2 separate regions of the Homo sapiens genome follow, and region 1 is linked to region 2. Evidence: fine-mapped expression QTL. A gene starts in region 2. The other region holds a variant in brackets. All regions are shown on one strand. Distances are from middle to middle. Region 1 overlaps CDC37L1 (cell division cycle 37 like 1, HSP90 cochaperone). Region 2 holds the start of CDC37L1 (cell division cycle 37 like 1, HSP90 cochaperone).

Region 1 (11,695 bases), 27 kb before region 2:
TCCTGATTACACAAATCTATACTTACCAAGACTCCTATATCTACAATATCATTATTTACAGAAAGGCTTTGAAAGAGCTTATTAGGAAGACTCAGACCTGTGTGTGTTTGTTTTGTTTTTGTTTCATCTTTAGGAAAAAAGGGGTGCTGGAAACATTCTCCGGAACAGAAACCAACAAGATTTGGCCCTATGTATATGCTTTCCTACAAACTAAAGTTCCACAAAGAAGCCAGAAAGCTTCAGTTACTCCATGAGGAGAAATGTGTGTAACTATTAATAGTAAGATGGGCAAACCTCCTAGTCCTTGCATTTAGAAGCTGCTTTTCCTAAGACTTCTAGTATGTATGAATTCTTTGAAAATTATATTACTTTTATTTCTACTGATTTTATTTTGGATACTAAGGATGTGCCAAATGATTCGGATACTAAGATGCATCGTTTGAAATCATCTAGTGTGTTGTATGCAGTTATCCTCAAAAACATCAGCGATGTCTGAACCTTTAAAACATCTGTTAGAGCAAAATTAAAAGAGCATTTGGTAGTAATCTAACTTTTTGTTCAGTTAATAAGTGGTTGATAAAGTTTCCATATTTTTCTGGAAAAGTTAAAAAAAGTTACATGTCATTTGGAGAAAATACGTAATCAGAAATTTGTGCATAGATTGATGCCAAAAAAGACATTTCCAGCATTGTGGAACATGGTGAGACACTATATAAAATTCCAGAAAGAAAGCAACTGGATTTACAGATTTATTGTGAGACACAAATTCACTGCTGCCTTTACACTAAGAAATGTATATGTTAACCATATATGCTGTATTTATTTTGTCGTTAAGCATACTTTCAGTTTACTCAGAATTTTCAATTTGCTATAAAGATGTATCAATTAGCATATAGAAAAATATTACTTTAAGATGACTTGTTTCCTTTGAAAATACCTGTGTACTGAGGGTTATGATTTGTGTCAAAAATTGACATAAGTGCTTTTACAAGCACCAAAGTTGAATGAATTTTCAACAAAATGTAATTAAAGTCTATGTTTTCAGTTATGACTCAGGTTAAGAAATGTGTTTTAGGATCTACTTGCTGGTTTTTCTTTTTGATCCAAATGTGTGATCTGCCCTGATAAATAACAAGTTATAGTACCATCTCCCCCGCCAATAAAAAAGAGAAGAAAAAAGAGAAACCCGTGGCACTATGTAAATAAAGTAAGCATACTTTGTTGTTAGTAAATAGATGAGGCATGCCTGGGAAATGCTCCCTTGGCATAAATAGCAATCAATCATAATTAGTAAACAGGTGTACCAATAAAAAGAATTTACATGATAGGTTAACAAGGACCAGGAAAGTGAGTTTCCTGAAGGAGTTCTTTGTTCCTGATCAAAGAAATTGATACCTGTTAGCATTCACTGCCACCATATTTTAAGGAGAAAGAACTCTATTGGTGTCGTCTGAGCAGCCATTTAAAAATTGGAATCTAAAGGATGGTTGCTGATGTACTGTGTGGTCTGGTAGAAGTGGGGAAATATGAGAGATGGAGGAAAAACTTGATTATGTCTTCCATGGCATATTTACTCTTACTTTACTTCGTGCCAAATCAAATGAAACAAGCCGTCTTACAAGTCGTTATTGCCTTTAAAAATCTGTTCCGTTTTTTTCCCAGGTACTTAAAATACAAGTGCCAGTAAGTGGTTCTTATGTGTTTTGGGGGGAAAATTTTATTTCCCTTTTCTTCTGATATTTAAAAAATTCATCGATCTTTCAAGATGAACCAAGGTTTTTTAAAAGAAATATAGGAAACACTTCATTCTTTATAAAACTTTCTATAATGCCTTATTTGAATGTTAATCTTATGTGCTTTCTAAAAAATGTTGTGAAATACCAAACTTATGGATTATCACTAGGTTATCAAGCATATATTAGTCTTTATCAGAATAAAATGAAATTTCATAACTGTGGCTATTACTTTGTTCTTGGTCCTTCACAGGGCCTGCTCCATCCCACCTTCCTTTCTGCTGCCTGATGTCTCAATGGCTTCTGAATGACTGTTCTAATAAATGATCTTAAAACAGTCCATAGGCTGGTTTCAGTTTATGCAATACTTCATCTCCTGCTATGGTAGCCATACCGGCCTTCATAATACCCTTAGGGGATTTGGAAATCAAAGTGAGCAGTGGAAGAACATGGCTATGAGAATTAAGACTCTTATTTCCTGTGACCATTCCCTCCCCACCCGCAAACACTTAGCCCAAAGTTTTGCACATACATTCATTACTTTAGGAATGAATATGACTGTAATACAACTTTTTTCTTTATTTTTTTTTAGACAGGGCCTCACTCTGTTGCCCAGACTAGAGTGCAGTGGCATAATTGGGTCACTGTAACGTTGAACTCCTGGGCTCACGCAATTCTTCTACCTCAGCCTCCCAAGTAGCTGAAACTACAGGTATGTACCACCATGCCTGGCTAATTTTATTTTTTTGTAGAGACGGCGTCTCGATATGTTGCCCAGGCTAGTCTCCTGGCCTCAAACAGTCTTCCTGATTCAGCTTCCCAAGTGCTGAGATTACAGGTGTAAGCCACTGCCCCCACCCAAAAAAATAATTCTGTAATGACCATCATTAAGATTTATGTACCACATGGAAATACATGTATGGAGCTGAATGCCATGGCTAGGAGAAACTACTATACTTTTGTTAAAAGCCAATGAGAGGCCGGGCGCGGTGGCTCACGCCTGTAATCCCAGCACTTTGGGAGGCCGAGGCGGGCGGATCACGAGGTCAGGAGATCGAGACCATCCTGGCTAACACGGTGAAACCCCGTCTCTACTAAAAATACAAAAAAAAAAAAAAAAAATTAGCCGGGCATGGTGGCGGGCGCCTGTAGTCCCAGCTACTCGGGAGGTTGAGGCAGGAGAATGGTGTGAATCCGGGAGGCGGAGGTTGCAGTGAGCTGAGATCGTGCCACTGCACTCCAGCCTGGGCGACAGAGGGAGACTCCGTCTCAAAAAAAAAAGCCAGGGAGAACAGCACCTCAACTGATTTATTTTATAGAGTAAAAGTTATTTTGCTATACCTTTTGTAAGCAGCGTGTACTGTGGGAAATGCAAACTAGCAGTTGTTAGCACCATCCAGAAATTTCTGTCAGTTCCATTTCAAATAGTTTAAATACTGGCTCAAATCTCTAAACCCCACCCTATGGCTACTTTTCCCCCAGCTATATATAATGGCATTCTAGCAAGATATTTTGGATCCTCATAACTTGTGACAAAACTGCCCTATACTAACAACAAATCATTGTAATTATAGATCTCAAATTATGTTAAATTGCTATAGTTGCAACCAACAGCAAGAATTTGTATTTTAGAATATGTTGTGTCTTCTCATTGACCAAAAAATAAAAATAAAAATAAAAATAAATCCTCAGGCCCTGATAAACTGTAGAAATAGCTTTTCTATCTTTGCAGTTAAAGATTTTCATCTTGGAAGTTATGGTTAAAAAATTTTTAAACAGTTAAAATAGTGTAGCTGTGCTTAAAGCTTCTGGTAAAAGCCAGTATGCTTTGTAGAGCCCTTATCCCCCTCCTGCTTTTTATTTGTTTTTAGCTCACTAAATAATATAAACACTGATTTTTCCATATATAGCACTGAATAAACTGTCATGCCTAAGTGTAAATCAGTCCAGCACTGTGTCATCTTTTTCTAAAGCATTCCAAGTTAAATGTCTGATGTGTAAATAACATGAAGAATCATGCTGTTAACTGTGTGAAAGATGTGGGAATTTTAATAATCATTTTCTATATTTAGAGATCAAACAAGTCTAATTCTTCAAAGCTTATGAGAATGGTTTCACTTCATATTAGATGGTGAACAATCCATAATGAACTTATATTCACCCTGTGTCCCCCTCCCGACCCCCTTGGCTCACATAGTGAGCAAATAATTTTCAGATAAATCAACTTCTCAGAACTATGCAATTGTATATACATGTCCATTACAGATGAGAGATGGATGGATTTAAGGGTTTTGTTAAAAGTATGTTTGCTATAATGGCAAAATTGAAATGGAAAGCCCATGAAATGGAAAGCCCAACCTCAACCCAGACAAGTACCTCGGTTCTGTCCCACACCAATTTAAGAACTGAAATACATGATTGACTTAGAAAAGTAAACTGACATTTCGTTCTCCTCTGAAAATACCCAAAGGTTAACTTCAGGATCACCTTGCCTAAACCTACAGTCAACTTTTTTCATCCTGTTAGAAAATCCACTTACTAAAACAGATTCATGTTCTTTGGGCAGCATGTTCATTTTCATTTTTAGATGTTGCCAGGCTGGAGTGCAGTGGCGCCATCTTGGCTCACTGCAACCTCTGCCTCCCGGGGTTCAAGCGATTCTCCTGCCTCAGCCTCCTGAGTAACTGGGACTACAGCCACGCGCCACCATGCCCAGCTAATTTTTGTATTTTGGGTAGAGACAGGGTTTCACCATGTTGGCCAGGATGGTCTCGATCTCCTGACCTCAGGATCCACCCGCCTCGGCCTCCCAAAGTGCCGGGATTACAGGCGTAAGCTACTGCGCCCGGCTGTTCATTCATTTTTAAAAGGGTAATAATATGATATGCCAGTCTGAAAGAAGAGGAGGACCTGATTTTCCTAAAGAGAAGTTATAAGAGATTGTGAGCTCATTAGGCAAAATTTGAAAGAGCTCACTAATGGTATAATTGGAAGAGAATGTTACCCATCTACCTAAGAGTAATAATTTTAAGGCAGTATTATCTTCACTACCACTGAAAAAATGACACTGAGTTAACAGAGAATAAATGGACAGCTATTTGATTTAAAAATTTTTTTATTCAAATATTAATTTTATCAAATGAAACAAGAATCTTTGATGATACTTTGATGTAAAAAAATGTTTCATTCATGTGTTTGCACTTTCCATGGTTTAATTTGTTTAGGGTAAATTGTCCAACCTGAAATATAAATTATCCCTTTGCTTAATATACTCTTTATTTCTTCAGAAACAAAAAAAAGGTAGGAATTAGTTCAAGGATGTCAATTTACTGTTTCTAGTACTAAAGTACGGCTAACTATGTAATTTATAGCCTTTAAGTGCAAATTATGGCATCAGTCAGTGGTTCCCACAACAGACCCAATCACACTTTCATACTCAAAACACAGTATATTCTTTTGCAAGTAAAAATATATAAATCAAGTTTCAAAGAACATCTTTTCAGTGCCCCTCAAGAATAGTTTACTCAGTTTGTTGATACTTTCTCTCCTGCCAGTCTTCAGTCATTAAATACCTCTAACTTAGAGAAGGCAAAATGAAATTCAAAACAATTTGAATGCTTACAGGCAAATCCTGGGAAAGAAGGGAAAATAATAATTCAAGTAACATTTCTGTGAAACTAGGAATATGGCTCCTGTGTCTGCCCATTCTCTCAATTTGGTAGAAAGGGAAAAATAAGAGCTTGCTTCAGAACAGAACAAAAAGAAAAAAATGTCTACGACTAGGTCATGGGTTTAAAAAAAAAAAAAGTACAGGCTGACAAACACTACTATATAAATTAGTCAAACATTTTATTATAGAGTATATATTTATATCAAAAGCACAAAAACGTTTATTCTGAAAACCAGGAAGATTGTGATGTTACAGAAGAAGATTCAATAATTCCAGTCCATTTCTAGGGTACTAAGTGTCTGATCACCTCAGCGAAAACAAGATACAAATGAGGCCAAGGTCACAGGTCTGGCCACCCTGAGTCCCTTCGCACTATTTGGTTTCTCAAGTTGAGACACGTATTCCCAGTCCCAGTTAGCCACCTTCCAAGTGTTTGCTACTAGCCTTAATGGGTACTTAGCCAAAGACTACACCCAAATATAACCAAAGCTTATGTTAAGTCATAAGATTAATCCTTCAATAATAAGGATAGCATAATTGGCTTTGTTACCTAATTCTACATAAACAAAATCATCAAATATCCTGGCATAACTGAAATGACTTACAGAGGAAGTAGTAAAGCTTGGAAGTATTCTATGGTAACTGAGCTGAAAAAGGGGAAATGCCAAATGTTGTAAATGCCATCATTACCAATAAGAGTCACCAAATTCTCAGAAATAGGTAATTGGCAGCTCAAGGCAGTTAGCAC[T/C]ACAAGATTTCTCTTGCCTTTAAAAAAAAAATCATTTTTAAGACTCCTTTTTTAAAAGGCTACATCAAAAAATAAACCAAAATAACAAAAATTAAAAGGCAACATGAGTAAAATAACTACAAATTTAAAAATCAGATTATTATTCCTGTTTGTTCTTACAAGCCATTAGTATTCTTTTAAAACTTACTCCCTGAGAGATCCCAGACTATGTTAAGAAAGAGTGAGCTTGAAGTTATTCTTATTTAAAAAGAAAATCTATATTAGCTCATCACATTTGATATTATTATAACTCTTAAAGTCAGCAGGGTAAAATCAAATTCTAAGGAATATAGTTTTGAGAATAATTTGAGGGTAAATGTAATGTATATATCAAATTTGTATTATAGTCAAGGATTTAACTGATGGTGCCGAAAGTCAAGTATTTAAGAGTTAAGACTTTTAAAAATTGTACCCCCCAACTTATTTAGTAAAGTACATTACCAACTACTGATTTATTGCTTTTAATGTGATGAAACACCAAATTTGACAGCTAAAGTAGCAGTGGGATACAAGTATGTTTTTATCTTTAATCATTTTTGTAGAATAGGACATGTACATATCCATATAAAAAGAGACTGTAGCAGATGCCTCCCAGAATCAACCAGTTCTTGTAAACATTGCATTTGTGCAGATTTTCATACTTGATTCCAAAATTGAGAACAATAAGATTAAAAGCAAATTTAGTAGCCACAAAAAGTCCAGTTTGACTTCCTGCAACATATGGTACCACTCTTCTCTTCAGAACAAAACAAAACAAAAAACCTAGCAGCACATTAAAAAAAATTTACAAAACATTTCAGTACTCTTTCCCTCCCATCAAAAACCGAACAAAAATAAAGTGCAGCACCCATAAAAGTGTCAAGAAAATAGCCAAGTTCTTCCTTTCTTGTAACAAAATAGCACTTGGCCTCAGCAGTCTTAACCAAATTATACAGTGTCCATCATTTTGGGTTCATCATCTTCTTTATGTACCACCGAGTTTAAGCTGCAGAGAGCTGTACTGATAGAATACTGAAGATAATCTGGATTCTGGGGAAAAAGAAAAGGTAGATTGGGGGGAGAAAAAGAACGCATTATAACCAGTTTTATGACAGTACATACATATATATTCAGTTTCACCGTCCTATTTCTCTGCAGTGTAGTAGAGCAGTAGGAAAGAAGATGGACTTTGGAGACAGACTTGGGCTGAATCCCAAGAAAATAAAGAAAAAAATAGGATGCTATCACCTATGAGATGTGATAAAAGAATGATACATGTAAAAAACAGAAATGTTAACAAATACCACCTTTCTTCTCTGTTTAATCATACAAGGCAAGGCTACAACCTCCATGTGATTATATATACATAGCTACTGATAATTTAAATATGGTTTGAAGTTAGCAATGCATTTTTAAGATTACCATCTAATTACAACAGTAAATACTAAAACTGCAAATCATCTAAATAAAGAAAAAATTTACTGGGTAAAAATTATGGATATCTTCAGGGTCTATTGTGGTTTCCCAAAGGTTAAAACAAACTCAGTGAGAAATCTGTACACTTTTGAGATGTATTTACACCCTTATTTTTTAAACTGAGAATAAAACAACAGGATTTGTTAAACAAGCATAAACTCATAAATGTTATGCTTGTCAATTTCAAAAACTGGGAATAGAAAACATAAAATCTTACTCAATAAATGCAAAAATAAAACCATTATTAAAGCACCATGAATAAGGGTATAGCCCTTAAGACCCAGAACTTTAGAAAATTCTTCCCCAATTCAATTTTGTCTACTCAATTGTTCCGAATATCTGCTAGTTACTTAAGACTTTTACCACTTGTATTACTAGTTTTACTTATATTTATTTTATTTAATAAACACCAGTGAGGACAGTAGTCAAACAGGATAGATGTCTTAAACCTCACCATCCAATAGGAGGTTGGGAGGCAGGGTTTTCTAAAGATCCTCCTAAGAAAGTACAACACTTTGTGAGATTCCTTTATTCTAAAAGTCAAAAAGCTAGCTGGAGTTCGGATTATTCCCAATCAGGTCTTTATGAAGGAAGTAGCAGGGACAACTGACTGAGGTCTGGGACACTCACACTGGGCTTCAGTTTTAATCCTGCCTCTATTTAGTAAAGCAAGCCTCAAGGAGAACAAAATTCACAATTTAGTAAAATTAAAAACTAGTCTACAGGATAAACCTAAAGTTAACTGTTATTATTTCTATATCCAAGAGGCCTTGGATTAGACCTCTCAAAACTAAGGATAATGAATGGTATTTGGCTTATTTCACACGATTGCTGTCAATTATTAAAAAAAAGAAATGAAAAGCTAAATGGTTACCCACACTTAAGCTTTATCAAAAATGACCAATATTATTGTTACATTGTCTCATTCTCCAAAAAAACAGCTTTAAGACCTTTTTCTAACAATCCAAGCCTAATTCTCTGGAACAGAGCTTACAATTACTCTATTAAGACTGGGCTCCAGTTTTCCATGGCACAACTTTTAATAACAGAATTGGCTGAGGAGATTCTCCAAAACTCATCCACCCATCTTCCTAAGAACTGTAAGATACTATCATACAGAGACTTTAAAAAATAAGAAGGAATCGGTATACCCGACCTAACCTACACTTAGATTTCATTGACTGTCCCATATTTTCATCTAGTAACATTCTCAACACATATGATTCACAGTCTGTGGTATAGGTGAATAAGCAGTGAAGCATAATAGAAATCCAAAAGTAGAATATTAGATTCATCACTTATTGTGTTGACCTCAGGCAAATTTCTTAAGTTCTATGAATTTCAGTTTACTCATCTATAAAAATGAATGAAAATGAATCACAGGGTGTTTGAGAAAATTAAATAATATGTGTGAAAGTGCTTTACAACATATAAACTGATATAAAAATGGGATGTTATTATTATGGTAAGATTTTTCTTCCAAACCTCTAAACTGATGATTTGGTCTTTCAGGTGGCCTCTCATTTTACTTCCCTCAACTAGTCGATAATCCTTTCCGCACATGTAGCAAGCATCTAACTGAAATTTTCTCCAGCCCTTGTATCCTTCAGAAGGACCACATCAGGATGCTCAAATTACTTACCATAAGGAATTGGTCTCCCACCATGAGGAGATTAGCCCAGCTTAATTAAATCTGAATAACCCTGATAATATCAGCAATACAGAAGTGTCAGAATTGTATAATTCTAGTCCCCCCATGACTATAAGGGATGCCTAGCACCTGATATCAGTTGCTATCTAATATATAGTTGCTATCTAATAACAACAAGGACTTACTTCTCTCAAACCAGAGGCAACTTCTTGATAATATAGGCTTAAGATACTATAATGTGTATCTTTCCCTCTTATATTTAGAATCAGTTACATCCTTCCAAAGTCTCTTTTCTCCTTCCCATGCATTATGTGACATTTTAATTGCAGGAGGTTTATATATTGGATTTCACAGTGACTTGGTCACAGAATTCCCCTGGAAAAACTACTTCCCTATGGGCTATTTCTTAGGAACTGAAGAGAAAAATCATCACTGAATTTAAATAAAATTAAGAGATAATCTGTAGGAATTTGTAGAGGGAATATTCTTTACATGTCTAACTAAGGGGGAACATTACTAATTATTTAAAAATCAAACATTAATTATTTCCATCCTTGAGACTTTTTTTTTTTTTTTTCAGCCAGAGTAGGCTCAGAGACTCCTGATAATAATATTTTTGACTGGGGTAAATATGATCAATCACTTTCCTTAAAGGACATACATGTAATTGGAATGGTGAAATTACAGTGAGATAAGGTCAAGCCACTGAAAATCCCAATTTTTAGCACTTTATGAGGTTTAAAACTAAATATAGGACTCTCCTCACATTGTCTTTTGAATAAGACTTTCCTTCTCACAATGTAGACAACAGATTAAACTGGCTAAAGCTGGTCTTAAAATCTTGGAGCCTGGAAATGAGAGATGACTGGGCTCTATTAAAGTGCTACTAGTAAAATCAAATGGGTAGGAATTATCTAATAATAACTTAAACTTGTAATCCTAACTAGCATCAGGCAGACCAGTGGTCTGATCATGTCTCCTTTTTGATGTAAATTTTTTCATGCTGCCTATATGACATGATTTTTTTTTTTTTTTTTTTTTTTTTGAGACGGAGTCTTGCTCTGTCGCCCAGGCTGGAGTGCAGTGGCTCGATCTCGGCTCACTGCAAGCTCTGCCTCCCGGGTTCACGCCATTCTCCTGCCTCAGCCTCCCGAGTAGCTGGGACTGCAGGTGCCTGCCACCACGCCCGGCTAATTTTTTTGTATTTTTTTTTTTTAGAAGAGACGGGGTTTCACCTTGTTAGCCAGGATGGTCTCGATCTCCTGACCTCGTGATCTGCCTGTCTCGGCCTTCCAAAGTGCTGGGATTACAGGCGCGAGCCACTGCGCCCAGCCGACATGGTTTTATCTTGATCAAACCACTGAAGACTTCAAAGAGGCTCAAACAGTTGGCCAGTATTACCAGATACAATATTATCAGCTACATTAATGTGTTCTAAAAATGTTATATCTGGTAGACCCAACATTTAACAAGAAAATACTAAATAAACTTAAGCAACAGATCACACTGGTTCCATGTGCATGTCCACTTTGAAGCTAATCATCCTAAAAAATTCAAAATGGCATAGTTTTAACTCAGGATGAGATGTTTTAAGGAAGCTCCTGAGGGAGCCATCTTGAAGAGTTTATGATTGAGATGATCAATAGCTAAGATTTGTTCTTAAGAATGGTTAGGTATAACTAATCACTACTACATTAAAAGGAGAGGAAATCTGGTATCTCTAAATACTTAAGAGGTGAGATTCAGCACCAAAACATGGCATGAAGTAAGATTCAACAGTTATCTTCTGAGGCAGGAATATTTAAAATAGTAGCACATATTAAAAAAAAAAAAGAGTGGGGCAAAATAACAAAAATTATGTGAATTAATAGGCTTATAAAACAAATATTTACTTTTCCAACTTACCTGTGGTAAGGATTCTAATAAACCTATAGATCCAACACCAGAATGGGGAACATGATTCTGAACTGTCATAGGTTGAAAACTTTGTGATTGAGAATAAAGTCTTACTCTTGACTTGAAAGCTTCAAGTTCATTTTTGAATGCTTCAAAATAACCTTCTTCCTCTGCCTAGAAAAAACAAAAAAAAAAACAAAGACTGTGTTCTTCAAGATTTCTAGACATAGTAAATTCCAGAAAGCATATAACAGGTTTGAAGTGGAGGAAGTAATGACAAGGTGAATAGTCTAAATATAGAAACCACCACGATCCCTGTCACATTTGTGAAAACTACCTGATTTATAGGAACATTAATAATTGGTTTGCTCCATTTCCTTCTGCTTCAGCAAAATAAGCTAATAAAAAACAACCCCTCCCTATGCATATGCACACAACTAAAAGAAAAGAAGGCTTTCTCTGTATTTTCCTTGACTTATCTAGATCCTTAACAGGATCCAAAA
Region 2 (9,814 bases):
TATTTGTAAGAAATGAAGAAAGCAATGGATGTTTGTGCAGCACAGTTCAATTTTTCTTAATTCAAAGGATTTCTGTACAATATTTTGGTATATAGTATATCCTGTGTTCTAGGTCTGCAGTCATGTTTTTATATCTTAGTCCTTGTTTCATCAACTAACTTCTAAACTTCTTTGTTAATTTAGGCCTATCCCCTGACAACTAACAGCAACAAAAAGCCTGGCAACTATCACAGTGTCTTGCATAAAGCTAGTGCTTAACAAACGTTTAATTAATAGTCTTCATAATCCTGAACAAGCAGAATAATGAGAACAAAGCTTAAATCTAGTTCATCACCTCAATACTCAACATGCTGACAACCAGGCCTTTATAATTTTGTTCTCCAAATTCTTCACTACAAAAAAACCTCCTTTTATCTAGAAGTAATCGTTTCTTGGTTTCTATTTTCTATCTGTATTTTTCCAATCCTTGGTGATTTGAGAAGTTCTTATTGGATATTTCCATTTATAACTGATTATATCAGACAGATATCCTTTAATTTATTCCTAATCAAAATAGGCAAATTATATATATATATATTTTGTGATGGAGTCTTGCTCTGTCACCAGGCTAGAGTGCAAAGGTGCGATCTCAGTTCACTGCAACCTCTGCCTCTGGGGTTTACGTGATTTTCCTGCCTCAGCCTCCCAAGTACCTGGGACTACAGGCATGTGCCACCATGCCCAGCTAATTTTTGTATTTTTAGTAGAGACAGGGTTTCACCATGTTGGCCAAGATGGTCTTGATCTCTTGACCTCGTGATCTACACACCTTGGCCTCCCAAAGTGCTGGGATTACAGGCATGAGCCACTGCGCCTGGCCACAAAGTTACATTTCTTAAAAGTGACAATGGTCTACCCTGCTGACCGTACTACTCCGAAGCAGTAGTAATTACTTTTATTTACTTAATTACTACATGTAAAGTACTGTGATAGACATTCAATACCCTATATTCCTTGGCTCTATAAAACAAAAGCTGAAGGCACATTCTTTATGAGTTCTTCGTCAAATGTACATCAACTTCAGAATAATTTCTCTCCAATCTGTTCCCATATCTGCATCACTATTCAAGCCCTTATAATTTCACATGTGAATTATACAAATGCAGACTCTTATCCCAAGCCGTTCTCCACTCCACTAGACTGGAGTGATCTTTCCAAAAAATGAATCTGATCTTTTTTTTCATTCTTAGCTTTGGGATAAAGTACATACTCTGTGGCAAAGCCCTTCGTGATGTTATTTCCCATTACCTCTTTAGACTCAGTTCCCATTGCTCTTCTACTTGTTTGCTTATTCTTCCCTTTCCCACCCTTGTCCCTCACTTCAATTTGGCAATCCTCTTTCTTCGAGGTAACTCCTACAGAAACTCCTATCTTCATCCAGATTCTGGCATGCCCTAAACTTTTTCTGACCCAGTGTCTCCCGACCCAAGTTATGCATATTTCTGTTGTGGTGTTTGTCATACAATATCATGCTTATTTGTTTACTGACTGGTGGTGGTAAACAATTCTGAGGCAAGTAGTAACCAAGGACCCTACCTCTTAGCTGAGTCTTCAGGCAAACTCACGTTTGTACTGGGACAAATGTGGACACTTGCTATTCAGATGTTTTATTTACTCATTCAGCAGGTTTGGAGCCAAGGTACTATAAACCATGTCCCTAAGTATATTTTATAATATATATTCATATATTATAAAATATATATAAAATATATTTTATATATAAAAATAAAATATATATATAAAATATATAAAGTATATTTTAAAATATATTTTAAAATATATTTTATATATAAATATAATATATATTTAATATATATATTATATTTTAATATAAAATATTTTAATATAAAATATAATATTTTAAAATAAAATATTTATTTTTACTTTTTGTTATCTTAGAATAGGATCAAGAATAGTTATCTTAGAATAGGATCAAGAATAACTGTAGACTAGCTATGCTTAAAACAGAGCCAGGAAAAGGAGAAAAATTAAGCTATATAACTTATTTTGTAAGAAAAGATGTAAGAACTTTTGTATATAAAACTTCTTTTGGCTGGGCTCAGTGGCTCACGCCTGTAATCCCAGCACTTTGGGAGGCTGAGGCGGGCGGATTACCTGAGGTCAGGAGTTCGAAACCAGCTTGGCCAACATGGCGAAACCCCGTTTCTACTAAAAATATTTTAAAACTTAGCTGGGCATGGCCGGGAGTGGTGGCTTACACCTGTAATCCCAGCACTTCAGGAGGCCGAGGCGGGCGGATCACGAGGAGGAGCTCGAGACCATCCTGGCTAACGTGGTGAAACCTCATCTCTACTAAAAATACAAAAAATTAGCCGGGCATGGTGGCGGGTGCCTGTAGTCCCAGCTACTTGGGAGGCTAAGGCAGGAGAATGGCATGAACCCAGAATGGCAGAGGTTGCAGTGAGCCGAGATTGCACCACTGCACTCCAGCCTGGGTGACACAGCGAGACTCCATCTCAAAAAAAAAAAAAAATTAGCTGGGCACAGTGGTGGGCACCTGTAATCCCAGCTACTCAGGAGGCTGAGGCAGGAGAATCACATGAGCCTGGGAGGCGGAGGCTGTGGTGAGCCAATATCGTGCCATTGCACTCCAGCCTGGGCAACACAGCAAGACACTGCCTCAAAAAAAAAAAAAAAAAAAGAGAAAGGATAATATATCAAGAAAAGTAATATGGTAATATGGATAAATAGAAATTATCTTGCATTTTCAAATTATTTGGGAGCAAATATTCTTTTCTCAAATCGAAAAATTCTAAAAATAATGTATGTCTTATTTCTCCACAAACTACCCAGACAACATTTGGCCATTTGGGCAAACTATCCAACATGTATTCAGATATTAAATAAAATATTAGGTCACATTCTAATCCATGACCATACAGAAGTTTTAGAGGGACATTAAACATGATCTGCCTTTACATTAATTGGATCTAAGAACTACATATCACATACTACATTAAGAAGTCTAGATCCCCCTTATTTGATAAAATTAAGCCAAAGCTTTTTTTAGGATTATAAAATGTTAATCAATTAAACATTTTATTTTTTCCAAATATTCCAATCCAAAAATTTAAGTCTTAAAGCCAGTAAGACCAATAAGTAGGTTTGTAATAAACACATGAACTCAGAATTAATAATCAGTTTGCAAAAAAAATTTTTTTTTTTGAGACAAGAGTTTCGCTCTTGTTGCCCAGGCTGGAATGCAATGGTGTGATCTCGGCTCACTGTAACCTTTGCCTCCAACAATTCTCCTGCCTCAGCCTCCCGAGTAGCTGGGATCACAGGCATGCGCCACCACACCAGGCTGATTTTGTATTTTTGGTAGAGACAGGGTTTCTCCATGTTGGTCAGGCTGGTCTCGAACTCTGGTGGGCAGTGCAGTAGGTGGGAAAATATACTGGACTAGGAGTCATAAGTGGGTTCTAGTTTTAACCTGGCCACTAACTAGTTACATGGCCTCAGGGAAAACACTTTTAATGAGAGAGATAAGCTTACTCACTTCTAAAATCTCTTCCAGCTAAACAAATTTAGAAGTGCACAAGTAAGAAATTAACATACAGATATTTCTCTAGATTACTTCTGTAATTCAACCACAATGCACTGAAATTCTTGACACCCTTTTTTCTCTTCATATGCCTTCAAAATTGACAATGGCATCTGCTGTTCATTCTTCTTTCCTCCCTAGCACATCATGTGCTTATAATACATTTTGTATATAAAGATGACACTAGTGATCCAAAATTAGTGGGTGACTAATGATGGACCCATCAACTCTCATTCTGTCCTCCTAAAAAATGTCTTGTAGTTCCCCAGTGACTTAGCTGGCCAAAGTACAGACAGTGGTTATGAAACAGCATTTTTCTCTGTGTGAAGCCAACTAACCCTGTTAGCTGGACATAAGATTGATAATGTCACGCTTACTGGTAAGCAATTTAACTCATTCTCATTAACATCTAGCAAAATAAGTTGAGAGGAAAACTACTATTAAATCTGTTACACTCTTGGGAACCCCATTTTGCAAGAAGGCGGCAGACACTTATGATCCATTGAATATATTAGTGTTTAGTCTGTGATTCTGAAATATACTTCCAAAACACACACGGATTCGGAGAAAAAAACAGGACAAGGTGATGCGAGTATGTAAGTATCCCCTAAGATAGGTCCCTGAAAAATCCTTAATAGTATATCACATTTGGATACGTTTCAGTCGCAGGAAGGCAGGAATGCTGGATTGAAAACACAATACCAGGAACCTAAGAGAAGTCTGAAGGAAAACACAAGTATATGCGTATATATTTTCACTGGAGAATGACGTGAAGCAAAACTAAAAAACAAAACAGTAAGGCAAAGATGGTCACGCGAATGGGAGAGGTGTACGCCAGCGTCAAAAGCGAGATTTAAAGAATTTACTCAGTTGTCAACATCGGTGAAAATCGCATGTGAAATCTTTGTCAGGACTCAGTGTGATGCTGAACTACAATCATTCACTGTTCCTAGCAACTGTGCACAAGTATGCTAGAGCCTTTAACAGAATAAAGTGCTTGGGGAAAACCTCTCACAAGAGGACAAAGGGTCAATGTTACAGCATGAGCCGCCCCAAATCTGAGTGCTGTCAGGAAGGGGAGATGGAGGAAGGTATTCCAAGAGTGAACAGGAATCAGCCAAGGCGAAAGAAAACATGTGCGTGGAGGTGGAGGTTGGTAATATATGGCCACCCCGTCTGCCCTCCGAAGATGCCATAAAAGGGGTGGGATGGCATCAGGCGTCAGGTCCCAGGTCCCCGGCCCCTGGCAGTGAGGTGGGCGTAGAAAAAGGCGTAGAAGAGGGTCTGGGAGACGCGGCATTCCAGGGGTTTGGCGACAGCACCACTCCATCCCTCCGCAGAACGCAGGCCCCTTCTCACCTGGGCGCCGCCGCCTGGCAGCTGCGGGCAGCGGGGAGAACTGGGGAACACGTCGAAGTCACTCTCTTCCTCAGCCTCACCCTCGGCCCGAGGGAGGCTCCAGGGTCCCGGAGGCGGCCACGGTTGTTCCATGTCCGGCTGCTCCGGGTCCTACAACCGCCCTTGGCCCTACAACTGCCACTGCCAACAGACTTGGCGTGAATGGAACCTGCTGCGCCGAGCCAGAAGCCCAGCCGGGGGTCCGGGCCGTTACCCAGAATCCCTCTACTGGCCGCGACGCCGCTGCACACCCGGCGACAGCCTGGGCCTCGCCACCGGCGGACGGCGGAAGAAATAGTCGGCGCGGTGCGTCACTTCCGGTTGGGGCGGGGCTGTGGAGGCGCGTCCCGGGCCCTTTGCGTGTAGTGGGTGGATCTGCAATTGTATTCCTGTTTCAAGCCCCGTTTTCTTGCAGCTCTTCGGCACTGCAAACCTAACCGCTAATGGCGCTGTGGGTGGAGAAACGTTTGTTAGGTAGCGTTATATATTGTTATCTGGTGTTCCCTATACCGAAAACGGCGGGTCCTGGCCGCCGGGAGGTACTCAGACCAGGTGTGCACTTTACATGTTGCTTAAAAATTGCAACTCATTCCTTTACATTGACATTTAAACCAGTGATTCTAAGGCAGAGTTGGGGCGGAGGGAGGAGAATTTTGAACAAGCGGAGCCAATTTTCGTCTCATTTCTAATTACAGGCAACAACAGAATTCTGCGAAACTTGGTTGGTTGGAGGAGCACACCAAAAATAAAGTACCGGAGCCGGCACGGCTTCAAAAAAATTAGGATCAGTACCGCTAGTAGCGAACGCATAAGAAGGGCTTCCTGTATGCCTGCGTATCTTGTTTAAGCCTAAAGATATGTACTCTCTTTATCCTCTTTTTTTGAGACGAGGAAGTAGACCCAGCATGCCCGAGATCACACATTTTACAAGGAAGAAGTAGGATCCAGACCCAGGGAGTTTAACTTCAAAACTTGAACGTTTAACAATCAGGTCTTGCTGCCCTACTCATAAAGAGACCCAAATAAAAACAACATGACGCCATTTTTTTCCATGTGTTTAGACTGGCAAACTTGTGAAGTCGCTTAATACCAAATGTGTACCAAGATGTAAGGAAATGATGTGAGAATGTCATTAGTATAACCTTTTAGGAGGAGTAATTTGACAATATGAGAGGCTTGAGCGGATTGATTCAGCAATTTCACCACTAAGAAAGTATGCAACAATTATTTTTGCACCAATATCCAAAGATTTACTACAAAGATTTCTGGCAGCAATTTTTGTGTGTGTGTGGCAAGAAAAAAAAAAGCATTCTAATTGTCCATCGATAGAGGAACTTAAAGTATGGAATATTAATACAATGGCATATTACCCTTTTTAAAAAAAGTAAATTGTATCTGAATATGCTGATATATAAATACCTCCAAAAGGTATTGAGTTTTAAACAAAGCAACTTGCAGAATTAAACATATGCGTACGTATACAGAGAGAGAAGAGAGAGGGATGGTATTTGTTTGCGTCCGTGTGTGTGTGTGTGTGTGTGTGTGTGTGTGTGTGTGTTTGCGCAGAACATTCCTGGAGGATATGCAAGAAACTGTTAATGATTACCTCTGGTGGGTGAGCCTAGGAAGGAAAGCTTCTGAGGATCTTTACTTTCCACATTTAGCTTCCCTGTACTGTGCTGTTTGAATATTTTTCCAATGAATGTATACTATAATTATAGTATTATAACAGTACAAGATTATAACAGTACAAGATTACTATAAAATTAATTACAAATAAAAGCTGAGAATCACTTTTGCACCTAAACCTTTTGAATTTAGGGGTGAAAGTCACAGGAGAGACTGGAAAGGGAGGAAGAAAAGAAAAACATTTTTCTCTTTGCTTCCATGAAGCCACAAAGTGCTTTGAATAGTGCCTGGCATAAAGTAAGCCCTATATAAACGCTAATGCTGTTAGTTTTTCTCCTACCTCTTTCACTACTTCTCCTCAGTCTTCTTCCCTTCTAGCTGACCTCTAACTTTAGAGTTCCTCATATTTTGGCCAGTGAGGAGAATCCTGTTTATTCCTGTGGCTTTAAATAACATCTGTGTATCTATAATTCTCAAATTGAAATCCAAGTCCTGACCTTACCCCTGTGCTCCAGACTCATGTCTACCCGCTGATTTGTCATCTCATTTTAATGGTTCATACACATCTTAAATTTAACACATCCAAACCCTTGATCTCACCGCCTTCCCCAAACTTCTTTGGGTCTTCTCCGTGTCAATCAATGGCATCACCATCCAGTCCAAAACCTAGAGTTCAGCCTTAGTTCCTCCCTCTCCTTTACCTCTCATACCAACAGCAAGTCCTACTGTTTTTACCCCCAAATACATCTTGAATCTATGTTCTTTCCTGCTTTACTGCATACTCCCTAGGCCAGAACACTATGATTGCTTCTCAGAACTACTGCAGTAGTCTTCCATGCTTCTGTTCCATTCTTGCTCCTTACAATCTCTTCATACTGTTGCCAGAGAGATTTTTAAAAAATACATAAATCATATCATGTCTCACCCCTGCTATATCAATTATATGCTTTCAATGCAAATAACTGAAACCTCAGCTAAAAGAAACCTAAACTATAAGGACATTTATTGTGTATGTAACAAAAAGAATGATCCCAGGATAGGCTTAGCAGTTTGAAGATGTCATTAAATATTCAGGTTCAGGCCAGGCGTGGTAGCCTACACCTGTAATCCCAGCACTTTGTGAGGCCAAGGCGGGTGGATCACTTGAGGCCAGGAGTTCGAGACTAGCCTGGCCAACATGGCAAAACCCCGTCTCTACTGAAAATACAAAAATTAGGCAGACCTGGTGGTGCATGCCTGTAATCCCAGCTACCCGGGAGGTGGAGGTTGCAGTGAGCTGAGATCACAGCATTGTACTCCACCTGGGTGACAGAGCGAGACTGTGTCGCAAAAGAAAGAAAGGAAAGGAAGGGAAAGGAAAAGGAGGGGAGGGGAGGGGAGGGGAAGGGAAGGGAAGGAAAGGAAAAGGAAAGGAAGATTCAGGTTCTTTCAATCCCTATCCCTCCTCCCCAGCATCCTAAATCTGTTTACTTTCATCTTCAGGCTTCTTACATCATGGTTGCAGGATGGCTGCTACAGCTCTGGACATCACATCAAAATATGGCAGAAGCTAAAGCAGGAAGACAGAGAAGGAGGCAAAACAGCTTTATTCACTTGTGGCTCTCATATGAAGAATAAAGATATTTCTCGAAACCTTCTAGTGAAATCCTTATATCTTATTGGCCAGAACTGGCTTACATAAATTATGATTTGTTGTCTGGAGCTGGATGCATTGCTACCTAAACAAAACTGGAGTTCTGTTAGCAAGGAGGAAGAGTTTGTGGCAGTAAGGTAGGCAATCACATTCTCTGCCATAATTGATAAAGTTCCTGTGAAACCTAGTGGCACCCTAATTCCTGAGTGTCATTCCTTTCTTTTTTTTTTTTGAGATGGAGTCTCGCTCTGTCTCCCAGGCTGGAGTGCATGGACTGCAGTGGCGCCATCTCAGCTCACGGCAACCTCCACCTCCTGGGTTCAAGCGATTCTCCTACCTCAGCCTCCCGAGTAGCTGGGATTACAGATGTGCACCACCACACCCAGCTGATTTTTGTATTTTTAGTAGAGACGGGGTTTTACTATGTTGGCCAGGCTGGTCTCGAACTCCTGACCTCAGGTGATCCGTCCGCCTCGGCCTCCCAAAGTGCTGAGACTACCGGTGTGCACCACTGCACCCGGCCCTGAATGTCGTTTCTTAAACCCTCTCCCTAACACCTTCCTTGCCCTCTCCCACCCCAAAATCTCTCTTGGACTCCTTTCAGTTCCTCAAACATGGCAGTTCCTTTCCTAACTCATGGCCCTTTCGAGTTGCTATTCCCTTTGCCTTTTCTCTTACTTTGAAAGGCTTGCTAGTGGTCATGCTTTTCTTCTTAGATCTTAGACCAAATCTCATACTCTTAGGCCAATCTGGCCAGTGAGTCTAAATGAAGTTCTCGTTTCTTCTTCAACCTGTTCTATTTTACCACCTTGTATATTTCCTTTCTACTATTCATCATACTATTATTTTATGTTCACTTAGTTATTATGTTTCTTACCCCAATAGAATGTAAGCTCCATGAGAGCACAGATTGTTTCTTATTCACTCTTGTACTTACATGGCTCAGAACAATACCTGGCTTACAGTAGACACTCAATAAATGTGGGCTGAATAAATGGATAGAGAATGAATGAATGGAAACAAGGATAAAAGAAAAGGTTAAATAAAGGCAGAAGGTGGTGAAAAAGGAATAGAAAGAAGTATATTTTGGTAGGAGATAAGGAGTGGATATAATGATATCAGAAGTAGCCTCATCTTGAGCCATTGCTGACTTCAGGATCTGAATCCTGTGCCCTGGCATAGTAAACACTTATTTTTGGAAACAGTTCTTGCTATGTTACCTAGGTCGGTCTCAAACTCCTGGGCTCAAGAGATCCTCCTGCTTCGGCCTCTCAAGTGGCTGGGATTACAGGCATGTACCACCACGCCCAGCTCCAGTAGACACTTTTTAAACAAGTCTTGGAACTTAATCATACACTTCTACTTTCTTATTTTGGATAATAAATAAAATTCCTTGGAAATTGCTTTGGGTCATAATTTGCCTATTACTCCCATGGACATAGAGCTAGCCAGCTGAAACTCAAAGGAGCAAATTAGGTTTTTTTCTGAGTAGAAATTACTTTTAAATGGAAAGACTATGTAGTCCAAAAAGCCCAAGGGCAGCCCTTGTG

What was found.
Region 1: its variant is fine-mapped to the expression of CDC37L1 in caudate (GTEx, PIP above 0.99). The same link has a PIP of 0.9 or more in aorta, fibroblasts, hypothalamus, lung, nucleus accumbens and prefrontal cortex.

The regions. Positions count from the first base shown.
Region 1 is chr9:4,701,535-4,713,229 of GRCh38, reverse strand. It overlaps CDC37L1 (cell division cycle 37 like 1, HSP90 cochaperone), which reads right to left. Exons shown (of 7, transcript NM_017913.4): 6 at 11,202-11,366; 7 at 4,831-7,219. The coding sequence ends at 7,118. It overlaps AK3 (adenylate kinase 3), which reads left to right. Exons shown (of 5, transcript NM_016282.4): 5 at 134-3,674. The coding sequence ends at 254. Among named protein-coding and RNA genes, the nearest start is that of CDC37L1, 28 kb to the right of the region's middle. The variant T/C (reference allele first, on the strand shown) is at 6,152.
Region 2 is chr9:4,675,049-4,684,862 of GRCh38, reverse strand. CDC37L1 (cell division cycle 37 like 1, HSP90 cochaperone) reads right to left here and starts at 5,294. Exons shown (of 7, transcript NM_017913.4): 1 at 4,964-5,294. The coding sequence starts at 5,095. CDC37L1-DT (CDC37L1 divergent transcript) reads left to right here and starts at 5,383. Exons shown (of 2, transcript NR_121598.1): 1 at 5,383-5,476; 2 at 8,114-8,263. RefSeq lists an enhancer at 5,071-5,160.